2 separate regions of the Homo sapiens genome follow, and region 1 is linked to region 2. Evidence: fine-mapped expression QTL. A gene starts in region 2. The other region holds a variant in brackets. All regions are shown on one strand. Distances are between the middles of the regions.

Region 1 (8,338 bases), 47 kb after region 2:
AATCCCGCAGATGACTGCACAGACAAGATCGTGCCCCCAAGTTCGGCGAGCCGGGCGCCCACCGCGCCCCCAGCCCACGCCCCCGGAGGTGAGGGCTGAATACAGGTGGTGCGGCGACGAGGCCCCGGGCCCGCCCTTTGTTGGTAAACACCGCGCGGCGCCAGAGGCCAGCCCCGCGCGCCCTCTCGGCGTCCCCGCGCCGCGCCCAGTTCTTACCGGCGCACAGCGATCCCCAGAGGAGGGCGAGGGCCACCCAGGGCGCCGTCATGTTCCGCGGCGCCGCCCCGCGCACACCCGGAGCCCGCGGGCAGGGCCGCACGGCGCTCCCGGGGCGCGCAGGGCCAGGCGGCGGCTGCGCTCTCCTTCCCGCTCCTTCCTTCGGTCTCGTTCCCTGCGCGCTTCCTGCGCCTTCGTCCCCGAGCAGCGTTCGGGCTCCAAGGGCCGGTCGGCGGGGCCGGGCTCAGGGCCGCTGCGGGCGGCGCAGGCTGCGGCCCGGGCTCCGGGGCGACGCGGGGGCCGGGGGGCGGCGGCGGGGCACGGGCCGGGGCGCGCCCGACTCAGGCATAGCGCGGCGGGGCTGGGCCCGGGCCCCGGGCGCAGGGGCCGAGTCCGGAGGGGCCATGAACGGGGGGAGGGGTGGGGGGGAGGGGAGCTGAACCGAGTCCAAAATGGCTCCTGAGCGGCGGCCACGGAGCCGAGCCAGCGGGGAAACCCGGATGTTGGATACAAAGAGGCGGGCGGGCTGGGCGGGGAGGGGGAGGGGAGGCGGGCCCTCCGGCCGCGTGGTCCGCGCCCCCCTGAGGGGCGGGGCCCCAGAGAAACAACAACACGGAGGCCCCGCCCCCATCCCGCGCCCTGTGGGAGGACGCGCGTGCACCAACTTGCTGGAGGACAGGGCGGGGCGCGCGGACGGAGGTGGCGGGAATGGGCTCCTGACCACTTTGCCCGGGAGCCTGTGGCCACTGCACTCGCAATTAGTGCCCCGCACGCTCGAGCCCAAGCTCCTGACACATGCTGCCCTACAACCCCGGAATGAGTGGATAGTCCCGGGACTCTGGCCCAGACGCCTCTGTGCCTTGGATTCCCCACCTGTGCAATGGGGGTGACAGTGAACCGTGGGAAAGTCGGATCTCTACTGATGGGCGAATTAAGTGGCAGAAAGAGGCTGACTTCCCTGAATTGACAAGCAGTCTCCCGTCTGCAATCCCTTGCCACACACTCAAAGGCACAGCTAGGGCGGGGAGTGGTCATTTAAACCCAACCAAGTGAGGGAGCGGGCAGAGTCCCGCCCCTCTAAGCCCAGCAGGTGGAAAAGGGCCTCTGGCAACCTGCTGGCCCTCCCTAATCCTATCTTGTCTTCTGCAGTTCCTGCGCCACCCACAGCGGCCCTGAGCTTCAATCTGCACTTTCAAAACTTCCCAGTTGCCTCCAGAGCCCTGCAGTTGAAGATCTTGTCTAGCACATGGTTTTGCTGTTTTCCTCACCCCGAACTCCCTCCTTGGAGGGCCATCGTTCTCTGTCTCAGATTCCACCCTCCTTATCACACAACTAGAGCTTCGGAGGAACGTGATGGGGCTCCCAACTAAGGAGGGAAAGACCATCATAGCTCAGGGATGAGGCTCCGAGATCCTCAGATAACATTAATTGTCCTCTGTCTTCTCTTGACTTGGCACATCCTTGCTTGGAGCAGGGCAGGAGCAGCTGAAAGGGAGGTGGCACCTGGAGGTCTCAGTCATTTCACTTCTCTGAGCCTCAGTTTTCCCATATGCAAAGTGAAGAGGTACACTCCCTCAGGGTTTTGCATCTTCTTAATGGCAGAAACCTAGTCAAACAAAATATTATGTAAATGTTCACTATAGGCAGGGCGAGGTGGCTCAAACCTGTAATTCCAGCACTTTTAGAGGCCCAGGAGGCTCTTGAGGTCAGGAGTTCGAGACCAGCCTGACCAACATGGCAAAAACCTGTCTCTACTAAATAATACAAAAATTAGCTGGGCATGGTGACACACACCTGTAATTCCAACTACTCGGTAGGAGGCTGAGGCAGGAGAATCGCTTGAACACAGGAGGGAGGCGGAGGTTGCAGTGAGCTGAGATTGCACCACTGCACTCCATCCTAGGTGACAGAGTGAGACTCTCTCTCAAAAAAAAAACAAGTTTATAAAGGAATGTATATTGTTCTGATTGACATTGAAATAGGGTCAACTACCCCCGGTCACCAGAGCAGCAGGAACACCTCAGGGGCCACACTTTGGAGGCACTGCCCAGAAAGATTTCTGGGTCTTTAAAAGTCCCTTCCAGTCCTGGGAAATTCTATGTGAAAATGATGGTCCCTGCTTGCTATAATCCCTACAGGTGACTTATTATCTAAGCCATTTAACACAGGATTGAATACTATGCGACTGTGTGCCAAGCAAGAAGCAGTGTTGTATGGGACACCCTAGCTGTGTATAAGGTATCTGGTAATAACACAGGAGGCCACAGTGATAGACTGTGATAACGGAAGTAATTCCATATCCAGTTTAAGTGTCTTTTCTAGGGAGTATAAATCGTTATCTCCATTCCAATATGGACTGAAAGGTATCGACTTTTATCCATGTGCCAAAAATTAGATTGGCTGGTTCCTCTCTTCTACTCCATACCAGGTCAGGTATCATAATAAGGACTCAGAGTGGTCCAAGCTGCCCAAATATCTGTGTCTTCCACTCTGACCTGTCTGGGAACCCCAAATTTATATCCAACTGCTTACTTGACAACTGCAGTTGGTAGCCTATCAGGCATCTCAAATTTGACCTAGCCAAAGCAGAAGTCCTCATTTTCCCCGTAAATCTCCTCCCCAGTTTTCCCTGTCTGAATCAATGGCATAAGCAACTACACCATTGCTCAAATCAGAACCTTATGAGTCCTACTGAAACCAGCCAAAGAGTCCCATAGACAGTTGTTTTTGTTTTTGTTTTTGTTTTTGTTTTTGAGACAGAGTTTGGCTCTTATTGCCCTCACTGGAGTGCAGTGGCACGATCTCGGCTCACTGCGACCTCCACCTCCTGAGTTCAAGTGATTCTCCTGCCGCAGCCTCCCAAGTAGCTGGAATTACAGGCACGCCACCATGCCCAGCTAAGTTTTGTATTTTTAGTAGATACAGGGTTTCATCATGTTGGCCAGGCTGGTCTTGAACTCCCAACTTCAGGTGACCTGCCTGCCTCAGCCTCCCAAAGTGCTGGGATTATAGAAGTTGACCCTTTTGCAGTTAAAGCTGGAAACTTACTTGTTTTATCCGAGTTCCTTCCTCAGGAAAGGACCTTCAGGCCTCTCACAAAAAGTATCAAAGAACTGAAGCCATAAAAAGTATCAAAAGAACTGAAACCAGATCACTGCACTAGATGCTGGGCCCCTCAGTCACCATGATTGCTTCCTTGCCCCTCCCATGTTCCTGTTTTCTTACATATTGTTACATTTCTTTCCTGCTATATAAACCCTTGGTTTTGGTCAGTCAAGGAGATGGATTTGAGACTGCACTCCCATCTCCTTGGCTGCAGCACCTGATTAAAGCCTTCTTCCTTGGCAATACTTGTCATCTCAGTGATTGGCTTTCTGTGCACCGAGCAGCAGGACCTAGACCAAACCCCTGGTGTTTC[G/A]GTAACAATACTTGATTCCTCCCATATACAGTCCATCAGCAAAATAGCCTCAAAAGTGTATCCACCATCCGACTACTTTTTTCCATGTACACTACTGCAACATTGTCTTATATCTGGACTGTTGCAATAGCAGTGAACCAGAAGGGAGCTTAACTGGTCCTCTGAATTCATTCTTGCCTTAAATAAATCTTCCATATAGTAACCAAAGTGATTCCCTGCCATCATTTTGATCATGAGCTCATCAAGCAAATACTAGGCTGGTTGAGAAAGGTGATAATGGATATTTGAAAAACGAGTTCTATTTGGGTTTTCTGTTCTTTTGAACGACTACAAGATTGCTAAATATCACATTTGGTATCAGACATCGGGTGACCAAAAACTGAAAGGCAAAAAAAATCTGAAACCCCAAATGTCTGCTGTAGAATTTATGGCAGTGAATTCTGCCATTAAGGCATTCAGTGTGTTAGGACCACTATTCCCTGGCTTCCCCACCCTTCAACAATCAAGACCAGAAACCAAGGAATTGAGAAGAATCAGTTGAACATGACATTCTTTAGTATCAAGCTATGGAAGAAGATGGAAAACTATAGCATTGTAATAAGACTTGGCATCTATATAATTATAATGAATTCTATTAAGGGATTAAATACATTCATTTAGCAAGATAAACTTTGAAAGTAACCACAGTTTTTATAATGTTATTTGGGAATTTCTTCATTTGAGAAAATATAAGTGGCCTCACCCTCTCTCAGTTTCTGAGAGGCCCTGGTTAGACATTCACTGTAGTGGGTAATTTAGGCATAGCAATACGAAATTAAACAATTTTATGAGAGTACCATTCACAGTGTATAATTGTTGGGGGAGGGGTGGGCAGTGTATACTTTCTTTGGTAATACAGTTCCCCCAAGACTTAATAAGCTATCTGTTATTTCCTAGACACAGTTCTCAAAGTGCTTTATTTCTTTGCCTTATTTATTTTCTTCCTAGACCTCGTACTTTCCCCGCCCCTTTCTCTTAACTTAATGGTGGTTACTTGAGGTCAAAAAAATGAATTGGCTTGGGTAGAAAGCTAACACTATCTCTCAAGAGAGATTAGATTATGCTGTGCTAATGGAAAAATCCCAAAACCTTAATGGCTTAAAATAACAAAATTTATATCTTTCTCGTGATACATATCCATTGGAGGTCAACAAACAAGCTCTACTCATTGTAATAACTCAGGGACACAGACTAAGAGGGCTACCTTTTGATACATGCTTCTACTATTGGAGAGACAAGGGAAAGAGAGCATGGTAAATGCTGGCCCTTAAAACTTCTACCAGACTGGGAAGATGATGGTTAGGTTGTTGGCTGCATTGTTTTTGAATCTTTCAAAATCTTCACATGAAAACACAGAGTAAGCTGGGTGTGATGGCTTATGCCTGTAATCCCAGCACATCAGGAGGCTGAGGCAGGAGCATCACTTGAGCCCAGGAGTTCAAGACTAGCCTGGACAACATAGTGAGACCCCCGTTTGTTAAAAATAAATAAAAATAAGGCTGGGCATGGTGGCTCACGCCTGTAATCTGAGCACTTTGGGAGGCCAAGGCAGGTGGATCACGAGGTCAAGAGATCGAGACCATTCTGGCCAACACGGTGAAACCCTGTCTCTACTAAAAATACAAAAATTAGCTGGGCATGGTGGCACATACCTGTAGTCCCAGCTACTCAGTAGGCTGAGGTGGGAGAATCACTTGAACCCAGGAGGTGGAGGTTGCAGTGAGCCAAAATCATGCCACTGCACTCCAGCCTGGCAACAGAGCAAGACTTGAATGTCTCACAAAATAGCAATAATTAATTAATTAAAATAAATAAATAAATAAAAATGAAAAACACAGAGCAACTGTATGGAAAAAACCAGACCATCCAAGTGCACTCACTGAAAAACCAGGTGACAGGATTTCCCTCAAAACATCAAAATACAAGCAAATAGAGACAAACTACTAATAGCAACAAAAGCTGTGTGGGCGAGCCTCTGCGCAAGAGGGAGCAGGATACAACAGGGTATATGACATACCTGAGAACCTCCAAGAATTCACACAGGATGGGGAAATGTTTAGCTCCACCCAGCAAAATTGGAGTCTTCATGGAAAACTCAGAACATTCAGTAGAGACCCAGAGAGTCACTCCATAGTGGAGCTAAACCAGCCCTAGATAATAAAGGCTATTGTAAACCTCAATACTAAGCTAAAGGAACAAGCCTTGACATGATCAACTTGATCTATAAGTTAATTTAACTACCCACCAGAGGAACCATCACTTTTTAAAGAAATTCTATCAATCTGACACTCAGTAAAAAAATATTTTAAATGCCCACATCTAATAAAAGAATTACTAAGCATAGGAAGAAGCAGGAAAATGTGACCCAAAAGAAGCAGAAAAATCATTCAATAGGAACAGATACAGAAGTGACAGAGATAATGGGATTATCAGTCAAGGATTTTAGTTTAATTTGATTTTTACAGGTATTTTTGTACAAATTCATGGAGGACATGAGAAATTTTGTTGCATGTATATAATGTGTATTGTTCAAGTAATGGCATTTAGGTATCCATCACCCAAGATCAATACATTATTCTTAAATATAGTCACCCTACTCAGCTATCAGACATTGAGTTTATTCTATCTGTATGTTTGTACCCTTTAACCCAGTTCTCTTCACCCACCCACCCCAGCTCCCTACTCACCCCTCCCAGTCTCTGTTATCTATCTCTCTACTGCCATAAAATAAAATATTTTAGTTTCCACATATAAGTGAGAATATATATTTGTCTTGTTGTGCCTGGCTTAGTTCACTTAAGATATATCCAGATCCATCCACGATGCTGCCAATGACAGGGTTTCTTTTTTTTTTAATTAAAATTTATGAGACAAGGTCTCACTATGTTGCCCAGGCTGGTCTCAAACTCTTGGGCTCAAGCAATCCTTCCTCCTCAGTTTCTCCAAGTGTTAGGATTACAGTCATGAGCCACCATGCCTGGCCAATTTCATTCTTTTTAATGGCCGAATAGTATTTCATTGTGTATATATACTACATTTTCTTTATCTGTTCATCCGTTGATGAATGCTTAGGTTGATTCTATATCTTCTCTTTTAAGAATAGTGCAATAATAAACAAGAATGGAGGTATTCCTTTAATATATTGATTCCTTTTCCTTTGGGTAGCTATCCAATACTGGGATTGCAGGATCACATAGTAATTCTGTTTTTAGTTTTTAGAGAACTCTCTATACGGTTGTTTTCCATAATAACTGTGCTAGTTTACATTCCCACCAACAGTGTATAAGAGTTCCCTTTTCGGCCAGATGTGGTGACACATGCCTGTAATCCCAGCATTATGGGAGGCCGAGGAGGGAGGATTGCTGGAGTTCAGGAGTTTGAGACCATCCTGGACCAACATAGGGAGACCCTGCTTGTATCTACAAAAAAAAAAAAAAAAAAAAAAAATTAGCCAGATGTGGTGGTGCATGCCTGTGGTCTCGGCTCTTCAGGAGGCTGAAGTGGGAGGATCACTTGAGCCCAGGAGGTGAAGGCTCCACTGAGCCATGATCGTGACACTGCACTCCAACCTGGGCAACAGAGTGAGACCTTGTCTCCAAAAATAAAATAAAAAAGAGTTCCATTTTCTCTGCATCCTCGTCAACATTGTTATTTTTTGTCTTTATAATAGTAGCCATTCCAGCTGGGATAAGATAATTATATGGTGGCTTTGATTTGTATTTCTCTGATGATAAGTGACATTGAGCATTTTTTCATATGCTGTTATCCATTTATATGTCTTCTTTTCAAAATGTCTATGCATGTCCTTTGTCTACTTTTTAATGGGATTATTTGGGATTTTGTTCCTGTTCAGTTGTTTGAGTTCCTTGTATATTCTGGATATTAGTCCCCTGTTGGATTAATACTTAGCAAATATTTTCTCCCATTCAACAGGTTGTTTCTTTACTCTGTTGATTGTTTCTTTTGCTTTGCAGAAGCCTTTTAGTTTAATAGAGTCCCATTTGTCTATTTTTGTGTTTATGGCCTGTGCTTTTGAGGTCTTAGTCATAAATTCTTTGCCTAGACCAATGTCCAGGAGAGTTTTCCCTAGGTTTTCTTCTGGTATTTTCATAGTTTCAAATTTTGAATTTAAGTCTTTAGTCCATTTTGATTTGGTTTTTGTATATGGTGAGAGATAGGGGTCTGGTTTCATTCTTCTGCATGTGACTACCCAATTTTCCCAGCACTATTTATTGAAGAGGGTTTCCATTCCCCAATATAAGTTCTTGTCAGCTTTGTTAAAGATTCGTTGGCTATAAATATGTGGCTTTATTTCTGGGTTCTCTATTCTGTTCCATTGGTCTATGTGTCTATTTTTATACCAGTACCATGCTATTTTTGTTAATACATCCCTGTAATATATTTTGAAGTAAGGTAATGTGATGCCTCCAGCTTTGTTCTTTTCACTCAGGGTTGCTACTGAGAGGTGAAACCAGCTGGACTCTGGATGGGGTGGGGACTTGGAGAACTTTTCTGTCTTACAAGAGGATTGTAAAATGTACCAATCAGTGCTCTATAGCTAGGATTTTAAAATGCACCAATCAGCATTCTGTGGTTACCTAGAAGTCTGTAAAATGTGCCAATCAGCACTCTGTAAAAATGCACCAATCAGCTCTCTGTGGCTAG
Region 2 (8,338 bases):
CTTCATCTGAATTTAGAAAGTACTAGTCTAGGAAAGAATGCTTTTCATACAGTGTAGCTATCTCATATAATTTTGACTCTGGCCTTTCCAGTTAAAGAAAAACTCCTCTGAATAGTATTTTAAGTAAAAACAATCACCAATCAAAACACTAAACTATATAAAAAGCTTGGCTACTAAATAAACTCTTGTTTTTTAAAAAAGACTCCCATGTATTGTATTTTGTACGATTGTATTTGACAAGTTTATGTGTACTGAAATAATGGATATATATAGACACAAAACAATTTGTTCTAGGCAAGCACAGCCTTGGGGAGAGGAGTGTCTCTGATATCTTGCTTACTGCCTCTCGAACCATGACAAAATAAACATTTAAGTTATGAGCTCCACCCAGAAATTTCTAAAACAGAATATCTGGGTACCACATAGGAGAGAAGAAATCTCAGATTTTATTTATTTTCTGACACCTCCAGAATGGTTTGTCACAGAGAACATTAGCAAATCCTAACACTACCTATTGCACTATCGTGAGGTGAGACTTTCTTAAACTACAAAAGTTATGACAACAAATGAAACATACTCAGACTGTTATTCAAAGAAGTGTAAAATGGAGAACAATGAAGTCACTGATTCCAAGGTGATTTCATTCAGCCAAGAAAAATTTAGTATCAGATCCCAAAGTTTACAGTAAAGTATCATATATGTAGCTTTTTAGAATCACTTTATAAAGAATAATACAGAAAAATTTATCATTAGTAAATTTCTAAGTGTCATTACCATTGGAATCACTTCCTTCTACAGCTAGTTATCTTTGGCTGGTGCTTACTGCCCTGGAAAAGCAATTTGTAGGAATTTCCAAAGACCTAAAAAGATACCTTCCTTGAGAAAAGATATAAATTTACTGCTGTAAGGTGTCTAGCAGTATTCCCAGTGGAGAACCGTATTAAACCATGCTCAGGGATTAAGGTTCCCTGATCTCCTCTCGATGCACAGATTTGGGCTGTAAGTCTGCATGATAGCCAGTTTTTGACTTTACCTTCTCTGGAACAAACTTTTTATCTTCCTTTTGACCTTTCTCCGTTCAGTGCCAAGACAACCTTCCATGTAGTCCCTAAGAGTGGGCAGGGAAGTTAGTTCTAGTTCACTCTTCCCTGAGGATGTAGCCCTTTGGAGTTCCAGGGTAACACAGGAAGGGTCTCCTACACTGCAAGACCTACAGGACAATCTACCTTGGGTGAGTCTTAGGTCTTTCCTTCAATCCTCCTCACCCCATAATGCTGTGAATTCAAAGGCAAATGTGGTTTTGGTTTGCCAAGACTGCGCTTACCTCTTTGGATTCTCGCTTTCTCCCACCAACACTAACCTAGCAATTCGCCACTATGCTGCTGGCTCTTCATTTTTCTTAAGCCATTTTTTAAAAGATATACTTTTAGTTGGGCATAGTGGCACATACCTGTAATCCCAGCTACTCAGGAGGCTGAGGCAGGAGGGTCACTTGAACCCAGAAATTCAAGACCAGCCTAGGCAACATAGCAAAAATCCATCTCAAAAAAAAAGGTAAAAAAAATACAGATATACACTTTTTATATACTAACATTTTCTGTTTCAGCAGGAAGATTCTATCTGAATAACTCAGTCCATCATTACTGAAAACAGAAGACCTTTTACATTAAAATCAAGTAAAACACAGGTACATTGCTCCCTATTTTCAAATAATATTAATTGGCTCTATTTTATTGCCTCAAAAGTACACAGCTCACAAGACTTATTATACAATATAAAATGCCCAGGTTTTCTTATATGCTTGATAAAGTTTTCACTTACATCAGTTTCTGTCTAACACCAAGTACATTCCAAGCCTCCTGTTATTCTGCTGGTTGCTGTGCACTCTAGAATGGCACACACTAACTTTAATATCAGCATTTTAATATGCATAGCCATAGCACACATTTTAAAGCAAAGGAGAATATGTGGAACACACAGCAAATTAAAAAGCAAATAACAAAAGGGAACAAAACAACTGTGACAAAAGGTAATATCCTTAATAAATAAAAGAACTTTTACAAATAAATTCAAAAGAGAATACCCCAACTGAAATAGGTAAAGAATAACTTACCAAAAAAGACTAATTCACAGCATGTTAACCCTCATTGATAATCAATAAACACAAGTAAAATGAGCATTAAATTGGTAAAGCTCAGTAATGCTCACCATAGGTGAAGGTTGAGAGAGAGAAGAAACAATGATGCTAGGAGTGTAAACTTGAAGAATCTACCTAGAAACCAATTTGACATTAATTATCAAGATCTGGCAATTCTACAGGACCCTATCAAGACATAAGGACACATGAATAAACTGACACACCTGCTTACTTCTCCAGCATCATTTCACATCACCTTCCCCCTCATTCATCTACTGGCACTCTTTTAGTTCCCTAAAAGAACAAAACTCCTGTCCACATTGGGGGCCTCCGAAGATGCAAATGTTCCTTTCTTCCTAGAATGCTCTTCTCCATATCCCATGGCACATTCAACCCCTTGCCTAAGTAATTTCCGTTCACTCTTCAGTCCACTTTTCCAGAGAAGCCTTACTAATCAAAATCAGGTTCTTGTGTTATAATCTCTCATCACACTTTTTTTTTTTTTTGAGACACATTCTCCCTCTGTTGCCTAAGCTGGAGTGTGGTGCTGCGATCTTGGCTCACTGCAACCCCCACCTCCTGGGCTCAAGAGATCCTCCCATCTCAGTCCCCCAAGTAGCTGGAACCACAGAGGTGCACCACCACGCCCAGCTAATTTTTGTATTTTTTGTAGAAACGCGGTTTTGCCATGTTGGCCAGGCTCATCTCAAACTCCTGAGCTCAAACGCCTCAGCCTCCCAAAGTACTGGGATTACAGGTGTGAGCCACCACGCCCAGCCTCTCATCAAACTTTTTACTGTTCCTTAATTATACTACACTAACTTGCAATCACCTCCTTTGGAAAAATTATTGTAATTATACATCTAAAATTATTTGTTTGATGGGTCAACCCACTCTCCCAACTCAAAGTGTCACTGGGGTAGAGATCCTCTACTCTGGTCACACATAGGTCCCCAAGGGTTACCACAGTGCCAGACACATAGCAGGCACATAAATATTTGTTAAGGTAAAACTGAATGGTGCTCATTGCTGTAATATTTATGACAGAGCCTCCCAACTAGTGTGTCAAGATATGGGTATTTTCAGCCCTGAGACAGCTGGAAAGGGTCTGGCTTTCTGGCTGCCAGGCAGGGTTGATTTAACCAGTAAGTTATATAAATATAATTTTCTACATGTGCTATGATATGAAAAAGGTTGAGAATATTAATAATCATCCCTGTTTTAAATTTGGAGACATCTTTCATAAATACTGTTACTTCAGTTTTTTTATCCAACCACCTACCCATTATCTTGCTTTTGGAAATATGTTCAAGAACCCATCTAGGCACCCGCTTTGCCTGATCATAAGACAAAGCGTGATTAGTGTAACACCTTGCCTCTGTTCCAGTTAAAGGGAATCCAAATTGTTCCAAGACAGCCTTTTCTGCAGATCCTAAAAATGAAAAAAAAAAAAAAAGGGGGGGCAGAGACAAAAAAAACACACACACACAATTAGTGGCTCTTAATAATGAAAGATTATAAGGAAAAGGAGAGCGGTGTGATTTACAAAGGACTGGCTCAGAAGTCTAATCAACCAGAAAATCTCATTTTTGCAATTACTTATGAGATGAAGAAAACAGACAGTAGGCAAAGTACTGATTTGCCTATAATCAGTGAATAAAATGCAGCTACTGCATTAACTTTTGAATAAAGACTTGATCTTATTAGTCTTTCACATCAAATTTCCAAATCATCTCTGAAGCACTGATATGTGTGCTGTTGCAAGATGACAGTAAAACTGGTACTGTTTTTCCTAGTGGGAGAAACCAAGCACACATTCAGCAGTGAGTCAGTTTCGAGATAATCCTCCCCGATGCCTTCTCAAATCCTCAACCCCCCAAGGGGGTAGTTCTCTTGCTAGATGCCAAGTATCCAAAGGAGCAAGTTAAATTAGCACATCCGCAAAGTACAAGAAATGAGCTCGTGTTAATTTTTTTTTTTTTTTTGTCAAATATAAGGTACCCATTGCAACATGAGTTTTTATACACTTTGGAGGGATAGCAGGTATTCTTCAACTGAACAATGACGAAAGAAGGGCAGTTAACTCATCTACTAAAATTATGTATTAATTTATTCCTTCATTCATACTTACTGAATGCCAATTATGTACCAGGTACTGTGCTGGTTAGATGATGGAGACCAAAACAGACATAGTCTCAAGTCTTATGGAGCTAACAATCTTAGTAGAGAACACAGACATTAAAACATAGATATCGCGATGAGTAACTGGGGGGAAGAAAGTCGGGCGGCGGGGGTGGTTCTGTGCAGAAAACGAAGATGCCCGGGGGAAGGAAGGACATGAGGGAAGCTGGCGAGACGCGAGGTGGGGAAGGGAGGCCGAGCCGGGAGAATAAAGGTCAGAAACCAAGGGCCAGGCTAGGGGCCCAGCAAACGGTGAAGGCTGTCCGTCAAGGACTGCCATTCACACTCCAGGTAGGAGTCGGAGCCCGAAATCTGGGCCAGCGAAGGGAGGACGGGCCCACAGACTTACCATCCGGCTGCTTCCCTGTCAACGCTCCCTCAGCGCCCTGACTCCGGAAGAACTGCAGGGCCGCGAGCCCAGCTCCCGCAGCGCCCACTACAGCCCCAGCCACGAAGCCGCTCAGAAAACGACGGGAACCCCGGAGGCGGGAAGCGATACTCTTGATAGCCATCTTGCCCGAGGTACCGGCCTTTTACCACGGCGCATGCGCGCGCATGCCGGCCCCCGCCATCCCCCCGTCACCCCACGCCTCACCGCCCGCCAAGCTGAGGGCCTCGCACGCCCCCTGGTGACAAACCGGGATGCCTAGCGCATCCCCGCTTCATCCCTGGTCCACTGGACGGGGCGATGGATGGGGAATATGATGTCTAGAGGGCTTAGTGGTATGCTATATATAGTCATGAGAAGAAAATACCTTTAGTCTCATTTAATAGGTGAGTAAACACTTGCGCATGGTTACACTAAGGTCTCCAGAGCCGATATTCCAACTCAGGTCTATTTATTTATTTAGCGACAGGGTCTCTGTTACCCAGGCTGCAGTACAGTGGAATGATCATAGCTTACTGCGATCTCGAACTCGTGGGCTCAAGCGATCCTCCTGCCTCAGCCTCCTGAGTAGCTGGGACTACAGGCACGTGCCACATTGCCCGGCTAAATTTTTGGCGGGAGTGGGGGAGCGGTAAAGAAGGGGGTCTCCTTATGTTGCCCAGGCTGGTATCCAACTTCTGGCCTCAAGCAATCTTCCCGCCTCGGCCTCCCAAAGTGCTGTAAGTCCAGGTGTGTGTCACTGTCCCCAACCTTCTCTTTTAAATTGGAATAATAATACTTAGACCATAGCGTTCTTGTGAGGATTAAAGGAGATGACACATGTAAAATGTTTAGGGAAGTACCAGGGGCATGTCACTAAGTGCTCTATAAATGTTAGAAATGTTTGAGTCATCTCTACTCTTTGTCTTGATAGAATATAAAATCCAGATTGCTGAACGCCTGCTGGCAAAGAAAGGATAGATTTCATGGACTACCACTCACAAACAAATGAGTCTTCATTTTGCAGCATGATCTCTAGCATTCCGTGTGGACTTAGTTCTTAGCAGAAACTTCAAGTTTCCTATTTCTTAGATAACTGGTAGGAATAACTTTCATCTGATCCCACTGATGATTCACTGACCAGGAGGCCACTTCTAACAACCTACTGAAGTGTGCACATTATTTTGACAGCCTCAAATGGGAGGCTACCCCCTTGCCAGGAATACCTCTTCTGAAGGACCCTGACTGGTTAAGCTACATCAACCAGAGTCCTTCCTAGGGATTTTCGATCTAGTAGTCTCTCTGGGTAGCAAAGCTGTGACGTAAAACTCACAGGCGCAGTGGCTCATGCCTGCAATCCCAGCACTTCGGGAGGCCAAGACTGGAGGATCACCTGAGGTCAGGAATTTGAGACCAGCCTGGCCAACATGGTGAAACCCCGTCTCTACTAACAATACAAAAATCAACCAGGTGTGGTGGCGCGTGCCTGTAATCCCAGCTACTCGAAAGGCTGAGGCAGAATTGCTTGAACCCAGGAGACGGAGGTTGCAGTGAGCTGAGATCGTGCCACTGCACTCCAATCTGGGCAATAGAGCAAGACTCTGTCTAAAAAAAAAAAAAAAAGCTCTGGCACTGTCTACAGCCTTGTTTCCTGCTAAGAAGTCAAAGGAGCAGATGCATCTGGTCTTGCTCTGAGCAATAATGGAAGAAATACCAGGACACAGGTGGAGGCCTGCAATGTTATGACCCCAACTCCCACAGGCTCCTGAAGCCCACATACATCCTGCCTTTCTGAAGTCTTGGCTAGTCATTTCCCCCAGAATCCTTTCAGTGAAACCCCCTTTTTTGTCTAATGGCTTCTGTCACCTGCAACCAAGAATCCTAACAAATACAACCAGACAACACTGGTATCTGTAGGCTTCAAGGCTACTTCAGCAGCTTTCCCCAGAATTTACTAAATACACAATCACTGAGGTACTGTATTTCTTAAGGCCCTTGTAAGTGCCAGACACTGTGCTAAATACTAGAGAGATAAATATTAGATGGCTTTTCCTAATCCAGATCCTCTACTTCTGAACAAGTGTAACCCCACTTTTGGTCCCAAGAGGTCAAGAACTGGAAGGGTTGCCTGCCTCAGGGTAGGAAAACTCCCTCTGGGCCTGTTTGCCCACCTGTAAAATTGGAATTGGGCCAGTGATTTGTAAACTTTAATCAAGGTTCCTAGGTGTTCCATAGGGATACCTGAGACTTAAAGGAAGGGATGGGAGGGTAAGTGAAATGGTCCCTTGGCCCTCTTCTACTTGCTCATTCAGACAAGCCTGGTTTTATAAACCAACTTCTGTGTCAAATTTCTTTGGTCAAAGAATTCCTTTGCTATAGGGAAAGTTTGACCAGATGACTCCTAAGGTCCAACCTTTCAGCTTTTCCAGCTCCAAGATCCTGTATCAAAAATGTCAGCCCTTTGCTCTCCTTCCTTCATTAGAGGCACTCACTAATAAAAGGTGAACTTTCTAAACGTGAAAGAGCAAAAACAGCCAAATATTGGGCAACTGGTCCCTGAATAAAGGGTCATCAAAAACTTTCTCCACAAGTTTCAAACCGTTGCTTAATTCTCATAATAAAGGGTGAATTTAAAGGGTGTTTCTCCACTTAGGCAAGAAAGAGTCATCGACCAAAAAAACTTGTTACTGCAGAAAGCAGTGAGGTGATTTCTGGGGCCTTCCTGTTTTGTTAGGTATTAAAGACTATCATTATTTTATTATTGGGGAACCATGAGTTCCTTTAGTGAGATTAAGTCCAAATCTCTGAAACTGGAGACCTGGTTTGCTAATTCCAGGTTGGGGATAAGGACCCATAATTGTATTTTTTAATAGCTCCGCAAATGACTCCAGTACTCAGCAACGTTTGGGAATGACAGAGTTTGTCATCTGCAATAGTCCTGAATACAACTATTTTCAAGGCTTCTCTGCTCCACTTACAACAATATTGCTCAGGGTTGTCTGCAAAGTACAGGACTGGTGGCAGAGGATGAGGGAATGGGGAGTGTCTTGGACATTTGGAAAATATGCTAACCTGCAGAAACTTACTCAAAATCCCAGAACAGTTCGTTCAGGAGAATGGTCCCCATTCATAATGTCCCCAACTAGACCCTGGACTTCTGAATGGCAGAAATGGAGACCTGTGCTTAGCTCCAGCCCCACAGGACCATGGCAGACTAGGCATTCAGCCATTAACATCTGTTAATGTTACACATACCAAACAGGAACTGACTTGAGTCAGCCCTCTAAGCAGCCGAACGCCATTTCATTTCATGTCTAATCCTCATGAAAGGAAACTCCAATCCCCTGCCACGTAATTAAGAAAGACAAGATTGTTTTATTATTATTTTATTTTCATATACAAAAAGATAAAACTTGAAATAGTTCTAGATTTTTCCTCCTATTGTTGGGGTGTAACTGCTTCTTCACACAGGGGGAAAAAACTACATTCACATCGGTTTATTTGAGGACCCAGTGCAGAGTTCAAGCAGCAAAACCCCAACTTAGCAGATCTAATTTCAAACTTGACACTCATTTCTAAAATTACCACAGTAAAAAGGAACAAAGATCCACTGCAAATGAATGAACTATGATACAATGTTCTTTCCAAAATGT

What was found.
Region 1: its variant is fine-mapped to the expression of EXOG in whole blood (TOPMed, PIP above 0.99).

The regions. Positions count from the first base shown.
Region 1 is chr3:38,446,253-38,454,590 of GRCh38, reverse strand. It overlaps ACVR2B (activin A receptor type 2B), which reads right to left and starts at 701. Exons shown (of 11, transcript NM_001106.4): 1 at 217-701. The coding sequence starts at 268. It overlaps ACVR2B-AS1 (ACVR2B antisense RNA 1), which reads left to right. Exons shown (of 2, transcript NR_028389.1): 1 at 1-88; 2 at 1,366-3,564. It also overlaps a transcript of XYLB not described here. RefSeq lists enhancers at 1-15, 620-1,119 and silencers at 22-301, 722-841, 852-901. The variant G/A (reference allele first, on the strand shown) is at 3,635.
Region 2 is chr3:38,492,860-38,501,197 of GRCh38, reverse strand. EXOG (exo/endonuclease G) reads right to left here and starts at 4,858. Exons shown (of 6, transcript NM_005107.4): 1 at 4,668-4,858; 2 at 3,420-3,569. The coding sequence starts at 4,830. It overlaps ACVR2B (activin A receptor type 2B), which reads right to left. Exons shown (of 11, transcript NM_001106.4): 11 at 8,056-8,338. RefSeq lists enhancers at 4,530-4,599, 4,660-4,709.